Homo sapiens: one gene and its partners. The protein of the gene in region 3 purifies or fractionates together with the protein of the main gene of each other region. This does not show direct contact. Each region holds a gene or a part of one and is shown on either strand. Other genes may lie near its edges. The genes, in order: MYO1B, PAK2 and ILKAP.

What was found.
Region 1: the proteins of ILKAP (region 3) and MYO1B purify together in Homo sapiens (affinity purification with mass spectrometry; one large-scale study listed by BioGRID and IntAct). This does not show direct contact.
Region 2: the proteins of ILKAP (region 3) and PAK2 fractionate together in Homo sapiens (co-fractionation; one large-scale study listed by BioGRID). This does not show direct contact.

The regions. Positions count from the first base shown.
Region 1 is NC_000002.12:191,251,750-191,255,405, forward strand, and holds part of MYO1B (unconventional myosin-Ib), read left to right. Parts: intron 1-3,656. UniProt on the Homo sapiens protein: Motor protein that may participate in process critical to neuronal development and function such as cell migration, neurite outgrowth and vesicular transport.
Region 2 is NC_000003.12:196,826,746-196,830,046, forward strand, and holds part of PAK2 (serine/threonine-protein kinase PAK 2), read left to right. Parts: intron 1-450; coding exon 451-588; intron 589-1,573; coding exon 1,574-1,660; 3' UTR 1,661-3,301. UniProt on the Homo sapiens protein: Serine/threonine protein kinase that plays a role in a variety of different signaling pathways including cytoskeleton regulation, cell motility, cell cycle progression, apoptosis or proliferation.
Region 3 is NC_000002.12:238,197,128-238,200,783, reverse strand, and holds part of ILKAP (integrin-linked kinase-associated serine/threonine phosphatase 2C), read left to right. Parts: intron 1-3,656. UniProt on the Homo sapiens protein: Protein phosphatase that may play a role in regulation of cell cycle progression via dephosphorylation of its substrates whose appropriate phosphorylation states might be crucial for cell proliferation.

The DNA of each region.
Region 1 (3,656 bases), about 47 Mb from region 3:
AGTTATCGACATTATAATACATTTACACGTCATTTGCCTACTTAATTTTCACTGGTTACATGAAAGCATTTTCACATTGCAACCACAACAAAAAGCTCCCCCAAAATACACAAAGAATCTTAATTGCAAGATTCCTGCTGGTCCCACTTAACATTTTCCAGTGTACACCTTCTCTCTCCATCATTGCTGCTTTGCTTTACATTTTATATTAGATCCTGAATTGCTATTTGTGATGTTCAGATTGCAAATATACTAGCTTCCTAACTGATCATTTTTTCCCTTAAAAGTACTTCAGAGTGATTGGTCACTGTTTTATTCATTTTAGACCCACAGTCTAAATGCTTTAAGGAAAAGCTTAATTTTCATAGACATTGGGCCTATGCCAATTTGCATGGCTTGTTATTTTTGTGATCCTCATATTATCTGCTTCTAGTCATAATCGGTAGATCACAGTTTTGAGCTACCCCTGATATAGTGAGCCATCTATGAAAAAGTTCTCGCTTGCCTGAAATTTTCAAAGTGTTGAGAGCTATTCATAAAAATGTATGAACTGCCACGTTGGTCAGGTTCAGGGCTTATTTGCCGTAGTACTCTGCAGGTATTCTGTGACATTCAGGAAGGAAAATAGAGTTAGACTCCTGATGTCAGCTTTGTAAAGGTTCATAGATGTCTCTTGAGTATCTGTAATTACATGATCTCTTAAAAACCTCTTATCCATGTACTGAAATTCATCTTGAATTGTTTATTTTTATCCTGCATTCACACAATTCACACTTTAAAGATAGAACTTGATTATATTGGTATTTTTATTTCAAATTTTCAATTTTTGGAATGGCAGAATGTTGCTATTGAAAAGTGTCTTAAAGGTCACCACTGTAACCCCTTCATTGTGCTTGAGACCTGCTCAGCTCCTAAATTTAACAGGGGACGGATCTGAGAAACTGACTCCAAGTTGTAACCTCTTGCTTAGTTTTCTTTCTAGGGAGATATCCGTCTCTCCAAACCTGTCGAAATCTAAATTTATTACCTCTTACCTAATACTTGGTCCCCTGTGGACTTCACTTCACTGTTTGTGCTAATAGCCTTTTCATCACCATCTTGACTTTGGATTCTAGAGCATCACCTACTTCCCCATTTTCTGTGACCCTTACATTCCTCCTGTCAGTCACTATGTCTGATTTATTGTTCTCCCCTATCTTTTGCCCTTTGCAAATCCTCAAGCCCTCATTCTGGTTCAGACCTTTAAAAGGCTGAGTTACTGGAGTATAGTGTTACCCAAAGTGAGTTGTTCCATAAAAAATTAGTAAGTTGGAAAAAAAAACAAAAAACAAAAAAATACCCTACCCATAAAGTTGGTAAATGTTCCTGTAAAAAGGGTTCCTTGGCCAGGTACATGTTAGAATAGCTGGTTAAGTTTCTTTGCAGAAAGACTTCTCCTGGCCTTCATTTGTGACTGTGTACTGTGAATTCCCAAGAGAAAGATACAGTATTCACTTGTCCCAACTTATGTCACCATTGTACCACGTTTTGGGGGGATCATTTCGTAGATAACACTGCTATAGTCACTTCACTGTAGCTTTTTAGGTTCTGTCACTGCCTGGCTTCCTGTGGGAATGTGCATTCCATGTGAGCCGTACTTGGTTCACTCTCAACTGTGTCTTGTGCTTTTACCTTGTTGTTCTGGATCGTTCCTTCCCCCCAGAAGCCCCTCTCCCCTATCACACTGGCACATCTTTCAGTGCCCAGCTTTGTGCCTGTCTTCTCTGTCAGTTTTCCCAGACTCAGGTTGCGCTTGTTCTTCTGAACTTAACTGTTTCACAACTTAAAAAAAAAAAAGAAAATATTTGAAGCACAATGAAATGTTGAAAGTAACCTTACACATTCATATGGTTAAATTATTGGAATTCCCACAAAATTCCATTTTCCATATTTGCGTCAGTTGACACATCACATGCACATCACATTCTCCTCTGTTTCCCCCCACAGGTTAGCTTGCACATATGTTCAACAAGCTTGTTGCTTGTGGGGCTTTTTTCTTTAATTTTGTGTTACTGAAATTGTGTTGCATTTAAATAGAAATTCAGGGAGAATTGACATCTTTATGGTTTAATGGCTTCCCATCCACAAACCTCATAAGCTTCTTTAATAGTTCTTTTATGTCCTTCAATGAAATTTTTATCATTTTGTATGTAAAACTCTTTCATACCGCTTGTTAGATTTGTGCCAAGGTGCTTCATGGTTTCTGTGGTCATTTTGAATGAATGATTTAGTACATTTCTGGTTAGTGTTGCTGGTGTACAAGAAAGGGATTGATTTTGTATTTGTTTATAAATAGTTCTTGATTGATCAAGTTCACATCTAAACCTGTGTTTGCTGTGGGAGCCTGCAGTTGGGTGGCTTTTCCAATACAGCATAAAATAACTTAGCCTTTATTGAAAATGTCATAATTCACTTTATTTTTATTTATTTATTTATTTTTTGAGACAGAGTTTCGCTCTTGCTGCCCAGGCTGGAGTGCAGTGGCATAATCTTGGCTCACTGCAACCTCCACCTCCCAGGTTCAAGCAATTCTCCTGCCTCAGCCTCCCGAGTAGCTGGGATTACAGGCATGCAACCACCACGCCTGGCTAATTTTGTATTTTTGGCAGAGATGGGGTTTCTCCATGTTGAGACTGATCTCGAACTCCTGACCTCAGGTGATCCACCCACCTTGGCCTCCCAAAGTGCTAGGATTACAGGCGTGAGCCACCGCGCCCGGCCTCTTTTTTTTTTTTAGAGACAAGTCTGGCTCTGTTGCATAGGCTGGAATGCAATGGCATGATCGTAGCTCGGTGCAGCCTCATACTCCTGGACTCAAATGAGCCTCCCACCTCAGCTTCCCAAGTAACTAGGACTATTGGTGTGCGCCTCCATGCCCAACTAATTTTTAAATTTTTTGTAGAGGTGATGTCTCATTGGTCCCAGGCTCCTGGCCTCAATCAGTTCTCCTGCCTTGGTTTCCCAAGTGCTGGGATTACAGGTGTAAGTCACCACACCTGACCTAATTTAAAAATTATATGCAGTACTTTTAGAAGTAAGGAAGGGGTGACTTTTAGTTATTTAATGTGTTCATTTATTAACTCATCAAATGTTTAGGTGCCTAGTATGTTTCAGGCACCGTACTAGGTACTGTGTTTTTGTTTTTGTTTTTGTTTTAGAGACAGGGTCTCTCTTTGTTGCTCAGGCCGGAGTACAGTGGTGTGAACATAGCTCACTGCAGGATCGAACTCCTGGGCACAAGTGATCCTCCTGTCTCCACCTCCCAAGCAGCTAGGACTACAGGCAGCATCTCCACACCCCACTCATTTTTTACATTTTTTTGTGGAGACGGGGTCTTTCTATGTTGCCCAGGCTGGTCTTGAACTCCTGGCCTCAAGTGATCCTCCCTCCTCAGCCTCTTGAAGTGTTAGGATTACAGGTATGAGGCACTACACCCATCCTGTACTGAATCTTTAATGTTGAACAAAACAGATGTGGTTTCTGCTCTCATGAATGTGAAGGGGAAGAGACATTGTGGAAATGGACACGGATAAATATGTATTCGTGGATTAGCATCGATACTGTGAAGGAAAAGGACAGGGGGCTGTGAGAAACAGAAAGGCGGAGAGAGGGAAATT
Region 2 (3,301 bases), on a different chromosome or scaffold from region 3:
CCCCACCTCTACTAAAAATACAAAGATTAGCAGGTCATGGTGGTATGCATCTGTAATCCCAGCTACTCGGGAGGCTGAGGCAGGAAAGTCACTTGAACCCAGGAGGCAGAGGTTGCAGTGAGCCAAGATTGCACCACTGCACTCCAGCCTGGGTGACAGAGCAAGATTCCGTCTCAACAAAAAAAAACAAAACAAAAGCAATATGTATTGCATTTATAACCGAAGAAAAACCAAAGGTGAATCTGATTTCAGAAAAGTAACTTAAGGAAATGTAACATCTAAAAATAAGAGGAAAGTATCAAATCTAAATTTAAATGGGATAATGATAACCCCAGTTTAGTATTTATGGTGATTTTCTTTAAAGAAGAAAGAATCCCTTAGACTTTATGGAGTGCTCTGTGACCGTGTTGAGCTATCTTAAGTGGATCAAAGATGTTCTTCTATTTTTAGGCCTTGTACCTAATAGCAACTAATGGAACCCCAGAACTTCAGAATCCAGAGAAACTTTCCCCAATATTTCGGGATTTCTTAAATCGATGTTTGGAAATGGATGTGGAAAAAAGGGGTTCAGCCAAAGAATTATTACAGGTAAATTTAAAAATGATTTCATTTGGGGGAATAGTTGACTTTTTTGGTAACCGACAGAAAGCTTTCCTAGGGCTAATAAGTAGATTTCACTACTCATTGATCACCAGCGGTATGGCAGCTGCTGCAATTTAGGGTTTCATCCTACCATGCTGAGCAAACTACCGCAAGGACAGAAAACCAAACACTGCATGTTCCCACTCATAGGTGGGAATTGAACAATGAGAACACCTGGACACAGGAAGGGGAACATCACACACCGGGGCCTGTTGTGGGGTGGGGGGAGTGGGGAGGGATAGCATTAGGAGATATACCTAATGTAAATGATGAGTTAACAGGTGCAGCACAGCAACATGGCACATGTGTACATATGTAACAAACCTGCACGTTGTGCGCATGTACCCTAGAACTTAAAGTATTAAAAAAAAAAGTGAGGGTTTCATCTGCTGTGAATAAAATTCTGACAAAACCGTAATGTGCAGTTTGTGCATCGTATCAATCCTCAGACCTGTTTACAGTTTGTGCATCGTATCAATCCTCAGACCTGTTTACAGTTTGTGCATCGTATCAATCCTCAGACCTGTTTACAGTTTGTGCATCGTATCAATCCTCAGACCTGTTTACAGTTTGTGCATCGTATCAATCCTCAGACCTGTTTACAGTTTGTGCATCGTATCAATCCTCAGACCTGTTTACAGTTTGTGCATCGTATCAATCCTCAGACCTGTTTACAGTTTGTGCATCGTATCACTCCTCAGACCTGTTTATTGCTGTTGTGTGTATATTTGTCAAACTAAAATGATTCTGCTTTCATTCAACTCTGAAAGTAATGCGTTGATTATGTTAGTCTTATGAAGGTATTAATATGTGTTTAGTTTATTAAATTATGATCGACAAGTAGTCTTTGGGGCTTAATTGAACAAAATTATTTTGTTTCTAACCTGATGAATGGCACTTATACATTTATTTTTCCCCTTCTTTCTGGCAGCATCCTTTCCTGAAACTGGCCAAACCGTTATCTAGCTTGACACCACTGATCATGGCAGCTAAAGAAGCAATGAAGAGTAACCGTTAACATCACTGCTGTGGCCTCATACTCTTTTTTCCATTTTCTACAAGAAGCCTTTTAGTATATGAAAATTATTACTCTTTTTGGGGTTTAAAGAAATGGTCTGCATAACCTGAATGAAAGAAGCAAATGACTATTCTCTGAAGACAACCAAGAGAAAATTGCAAAAAGACAAGTATGACTTTTATATGAACCCCTTCTTTAGGGTCCAGAAGGAATTGTGGACTGAATCACTAGCCTTAGGTCTTTCAGCAAACAGCCTATCAGGGCCATTTATCATGTGTGAGATTTGCATTTTACTTTGCTGACTTTGTTGTAATAGATCCCATTCATTGTCCCCTTTGGGGTATTTCCAATACTTGAATGGCAGATTGGAGTTTTTCAGAGTATGTGTTTCATCTGCTAGTCTTTCTCTCCTTCATAGCTTTTCTTTTCCTGGACTTGCTCCTTTTGAGTTGCTTTTGCGTTTCTCATGCCTAGGCAAGTGTAATAGAAATTATGTAGCTCCTTATGTTGGCAAAGGAGCTCTATATAGTTTCACTTTGTATAAAAGTTAGGACCAGCTGTTGTTACATGTAATATTTTAGTTCAGAACTTGACCTGAAGGAAGGGAAGAAAAGTATGTGATTTTTACCTTTTTTAACAAATGTGAAAAAGTCAGTTTTAGAAATTTCGTGGTAGTAAGTTCGGCATTTGTTACATGTATAGAGAGAAGACTAATAATCTCTATTTATAACTAAATCATTGAGATAGAAAAAGATTCCCATTGACTGTAGACTTCTTCCCATTTTGTCTTCCCTTCTGCCTGTTTCCCCTTCAGGCTTGGCTCTAGGAACCAAAGTGATTTGTTGTTGTTCCAACCTGGGCTTTGTGACTTTGGTTAGTGCCACTACCTTCTTCCCTCCTTTCCCCCTTCAATTTGGAAATAAATTTCTGTATATGTTGCAATTTTAGGTTTAGGTTTGTTCTTTTTCTTTTTCATTAATCCTCTCTCACCTCACAGATACCCCCTCCCATGGCAAATAATATAATAACCAGTGAATTTTCAGGAATTTAAAAATTAGCTTTTTTCCACTTAAAGGAGAAAAATATTTGGGACTAGCAGCAGAGGCAGTAAGAGATGTGAACCTTGGTGAGCTCTGATACAGTGAGAAGAGATTATACTCATGAAAGAGAATGTTAGTGTTACAGAGAAGCAGCCGATAGCAAATCGACTGTAGAGACTTGGCGGCGGTGGCATTGCCCCAGGTCGTCAGCAGTGTGGTATTATCTATGAGAACTTGAGCGACAGAGTATTTCTTGATGAATTTATAGATCATTTGAGATGTTGAGTTACTTTAGTTTAGTTTTGTTTTGTTTTTTCAAATAAGTAGAGACTATTGTAAAAAACGAGAAAGGAAAATGAAATGTGCGTGTTGATAGCAATAATTTGTTTCTTTTAAAGATTCTAAAAGGTCTGAGACCTGTAGCATTAATTATTTGAGTGCCCTCCCTTCTCCCCTCCCCTCCCTTTTCTCTTCTCTTTTTTCCTCTCCTCTTCTTCTCCTTTATTCATTGTTTTGCTTTTGGAGTGGGTGTTGTTCAAGTATCTGTGGTTTGGTTCTGGCATTTTGTTCCCACCATCCCCTTCCCCCATTAACTTCCCCC
Region 3 (3,656 bases):
TGACATAAACACAGCTCACTGCAGTCTCGACCTCCGTGGGCACAGGTGATTCTTCCACCTCAGCCTCCTTGGTAGCTGGGACTACAGGTGCGCACCACCACAGCCAGCTAATTTTTGTATGTTTTGTAGAGACAAGGCTTTGCCATGTTGCCCAGGCTGCTCTCGAACTCCTGGGGCTCAAGTGTTCTGCCCACCTTGGCCCTCCCAGAGTGCTGGGATTACAGTGGTAAGCCACTGTGCCTGGCTGAGCCATTAACAGTTGTTTAAAAGTGGAAAAACGCAGTCTTAAATGAATTATGGGAAAGCACTGAGTGTCCAAAGGGAGAATACTACACTGCTTATATCACATCAAATGTATTAATATTTTGTTTAGATCTTTTTATTTTTGTTTTAAACGTTGCATCTAATGTTCCCACCCCTAAACCTCTTAAATGTTTATAATCTAGAAAAATACATAGAATGCACTAAATATTTCAGGTATTTTGCTAAATTAGTAGTTTTCATCCAAGCCCTTAAAAGTTTTAATTGCTGAATGAATCAAGTTTTTTAAAGGAGAGATGTATATATTTTACCTAAAAAAAAGTGTTTGTTCATATCAGGCAGAAATGGAACTTTCCTATGTCATACCCATAAAAGTGCCGACCTGATGTCTTTAAGATTGGCAGCTTATATTGACAATCCATGTATGTCAGTTGAAGGTGTCATGGTTTAAAATTGCTTCGCCAGTAACTTGATTTCACTTTTATAGGGTGGTTCTTTTACTTATTTGGTTGCTACACTAGTACTTTAAAAATTGATGGTCAGTTGTTGAGGAGGAAATAAAATATTTGATGGCCACACCATCTTAAAAATACTTTAAAAAAATTGGAGGCTGGGCTCGATGGCGCATACTTGTAATCCCAGCGCTTTGGGGGAACAAGGCAGGAGGATGGCTTGAGGCCAGGAATTTGAGAAGAGCCTGGCACAACTTCGTGAGACCCCTGTCTCTACGATTAAAAAAAAAAAAGAAGAATATTTGAACATAAAGGTTAAGGTATTAGAGGAAAACAGATTGTAAAACTACAGGGTTGAACAAGAAAAAAGTCATAAAAAAGTGAATTTGACTATGTAAAAATTTAAAATTTCTGCAGGACAAATGATACTATAAAGGCAAAAGACAAACCGAGAAAATAATTGCAATATACATTACTAAGGGTATAAGAAAGGCTCACAGAATTGATGGGAAAAAATAAAACCCACTAGAAAAATGGTCAAAGGATGTATCCTCCCAGTTCAGAGGTAAGGAATACAAATGGCCCATCAACAGAAAGTTGCTGAGGAACTATTTACCTTTTCACCCATCAGATTAGCAACAGTTGGTAACATTGGTGAATGTGTAGCGAAGTAGACTTTCTCATAAAGTGTTTTGGGAGTGAAAATTACAACTTTTTGGGGAACAGATTTTGGCTTCTATCAGATTTAAACTAATATCCTTTGACGAGCAGTCTAGCAGATTAAGCAGGAATACATGTATCAGATTGTTGATTGTGGCGTCACTTATCATATGAAGAACTGGGAAAAGCTTGAACCCATCAGTAAGGATCTGGTCGAATGAGTGGAGATGCTTCCCATGTGTGGCTGTTGGAGAGGATGAATTAGACTTGGGTGTGTTGGCCTGGAGCATGCCTTGATGGGTTATGTGAACACTATATGTGGAGTATTGTGTAGAGTATGACTCTGTCTTCTACAAATTAAAATGCATGAGTCCATGTGCATGAGCATTAAGGAAAGTGGAAAGGATACACTAAACTCATACTGTGGTTGGGGGGTGTGGCGGAACCTGTCCCCCCTTTTTTCTGATAATACCTCTGTGGTGTTTGGAAAACACCTGGATTTATTTTATAGTTGAAAAAATTGAGGTATAAAAAACAATTTAGCCAAAATATTTTAACATCCTTTTTTAACTTTATTGGATACAGCAACCTTTAACCTGAATATGATCAACCCAAGGGTATTTTTCTCAGCATAGTATATAACTTCCAGTAGACTTAGCTCCAGAATGTAGATAACTGAGGAAAAAAAAAAGTTCTAGATGAGATTAACTATGATTAATGGACATTTTTAGTCTTGTATTCTTATTAGGGTTCTAATATTTTTAAGATTAGGGGAGGGGCCTCTTCCAGATTTTTAGGTCAGGGTCACACTTTGTCCAATGATTGCAGCCCCCAATGCTTTGAATTTCAGTTTATTCAAAATAGAATGTAAGGGCCTGGAGCAGTGGGTCACATCTGTAATCCCAGCACTTTGGGATGCTGAGGCAGGAAGATTGCTTGAGTACAGTAGTTCGTGACCAACCTGGGCAACATAGTGAGACCCCGTCTCTACAAAAAGTTAAAAAATTAGCTGGGCATGGTGGTGTATGCCTGTAGTTTCAGCTACTCGGGAATCTGACGAGGGAGGATTGCTTGAGCCCAGAAGGTTGGGGCTGCAGTGAGCTGTGATCACACCACTGCACTCCAACCTGGCTCACAGAGCGAGACTCTTGTCTCAATTTAAAAAAAAAAAAATCTAAGGTTTTGACTAATCAGTAGTTTCCTTATGTATCTATGACCTATAGATTTTTTTTTAAAGAATCCACATACAGACTTCTAAGTTAGATTCTTTTGATGATGCAAAAATTATTTCCAGAGATTTTATAAAATCTCAGGATTATCATCATAGGATTGTTGTAAGGGTAAAATGAGTTGATGTTTATGAAGTTTCTGGAAGGGTGCCCATGTATGGAGGCAGCATAGTACCTCACTAAAAGCACGGACTGCATGGCTTTGAATCCCCACTCCACTCCTTACTGGCTCTGTGATCTTGAACAGGTAATTGACCTCAGTGCCTCAGTTTTTTCATCGGTAAATAATAATAGTACCTATCTCATAAGAATTAAATGAGAAGATGTGTGGAGCTCTTAGAATAGTGCCTGACAGGCAGGCAGTATTATCATTTTTAGAAGCCATTCCCAGTTGTGGCCAGCAAAATGTAGGATGGTCTCATTGTGTTTAATTGAAATACCTCTCATAGTATTCCAGAGTGAGAAAGAAGGTGATAGGCAGTTCTCTGGGGATGGGGCTCAGTTTGGGGCACCATCTGACTGAATTGTAGCCAGAGGAGAGGCGGCCAGGCTAGTATTAATACTAAGCTGTAAGTTGCATTGTGAGGAATGCTTACAAGAACTGAAAATATATTTATTACCTGGGTAAAAGAAGACTTCCTCCCTTGTACAGTGGCAGTGGAAAGACCTGATTTAGATGGGCAAGTTAATTCAAAAGTTAAAATATGACCTGGTACAAGCGGAAGGGTTGTTTGCTCTTCATGTTGGGCTGTTACCTGTAAATGTCCCCTCCCTTGTCCTAAGACATCTGGCTCTGTGACACCACTGAATGCAGCGTGATTGTCTGGAACATCTCATGTGGTTTTTGAGTCTGTCCGGAGAACGGGCGTTGTGATTGTTAGACCCAATGTTTGGGCAAAAGTGACCTACTTCGGGATATTAGGAATTCTTGTAAGTGGATTAATACATTGAGTAATGGTTATCCTAAATACTTTTTTTGGGTGCTGGGGACAGAGTCTGGTTTTGTCCCCCAGGCTGGAGTGCAGTGGCGCTATCTCAGCTCACCGCAACCTCC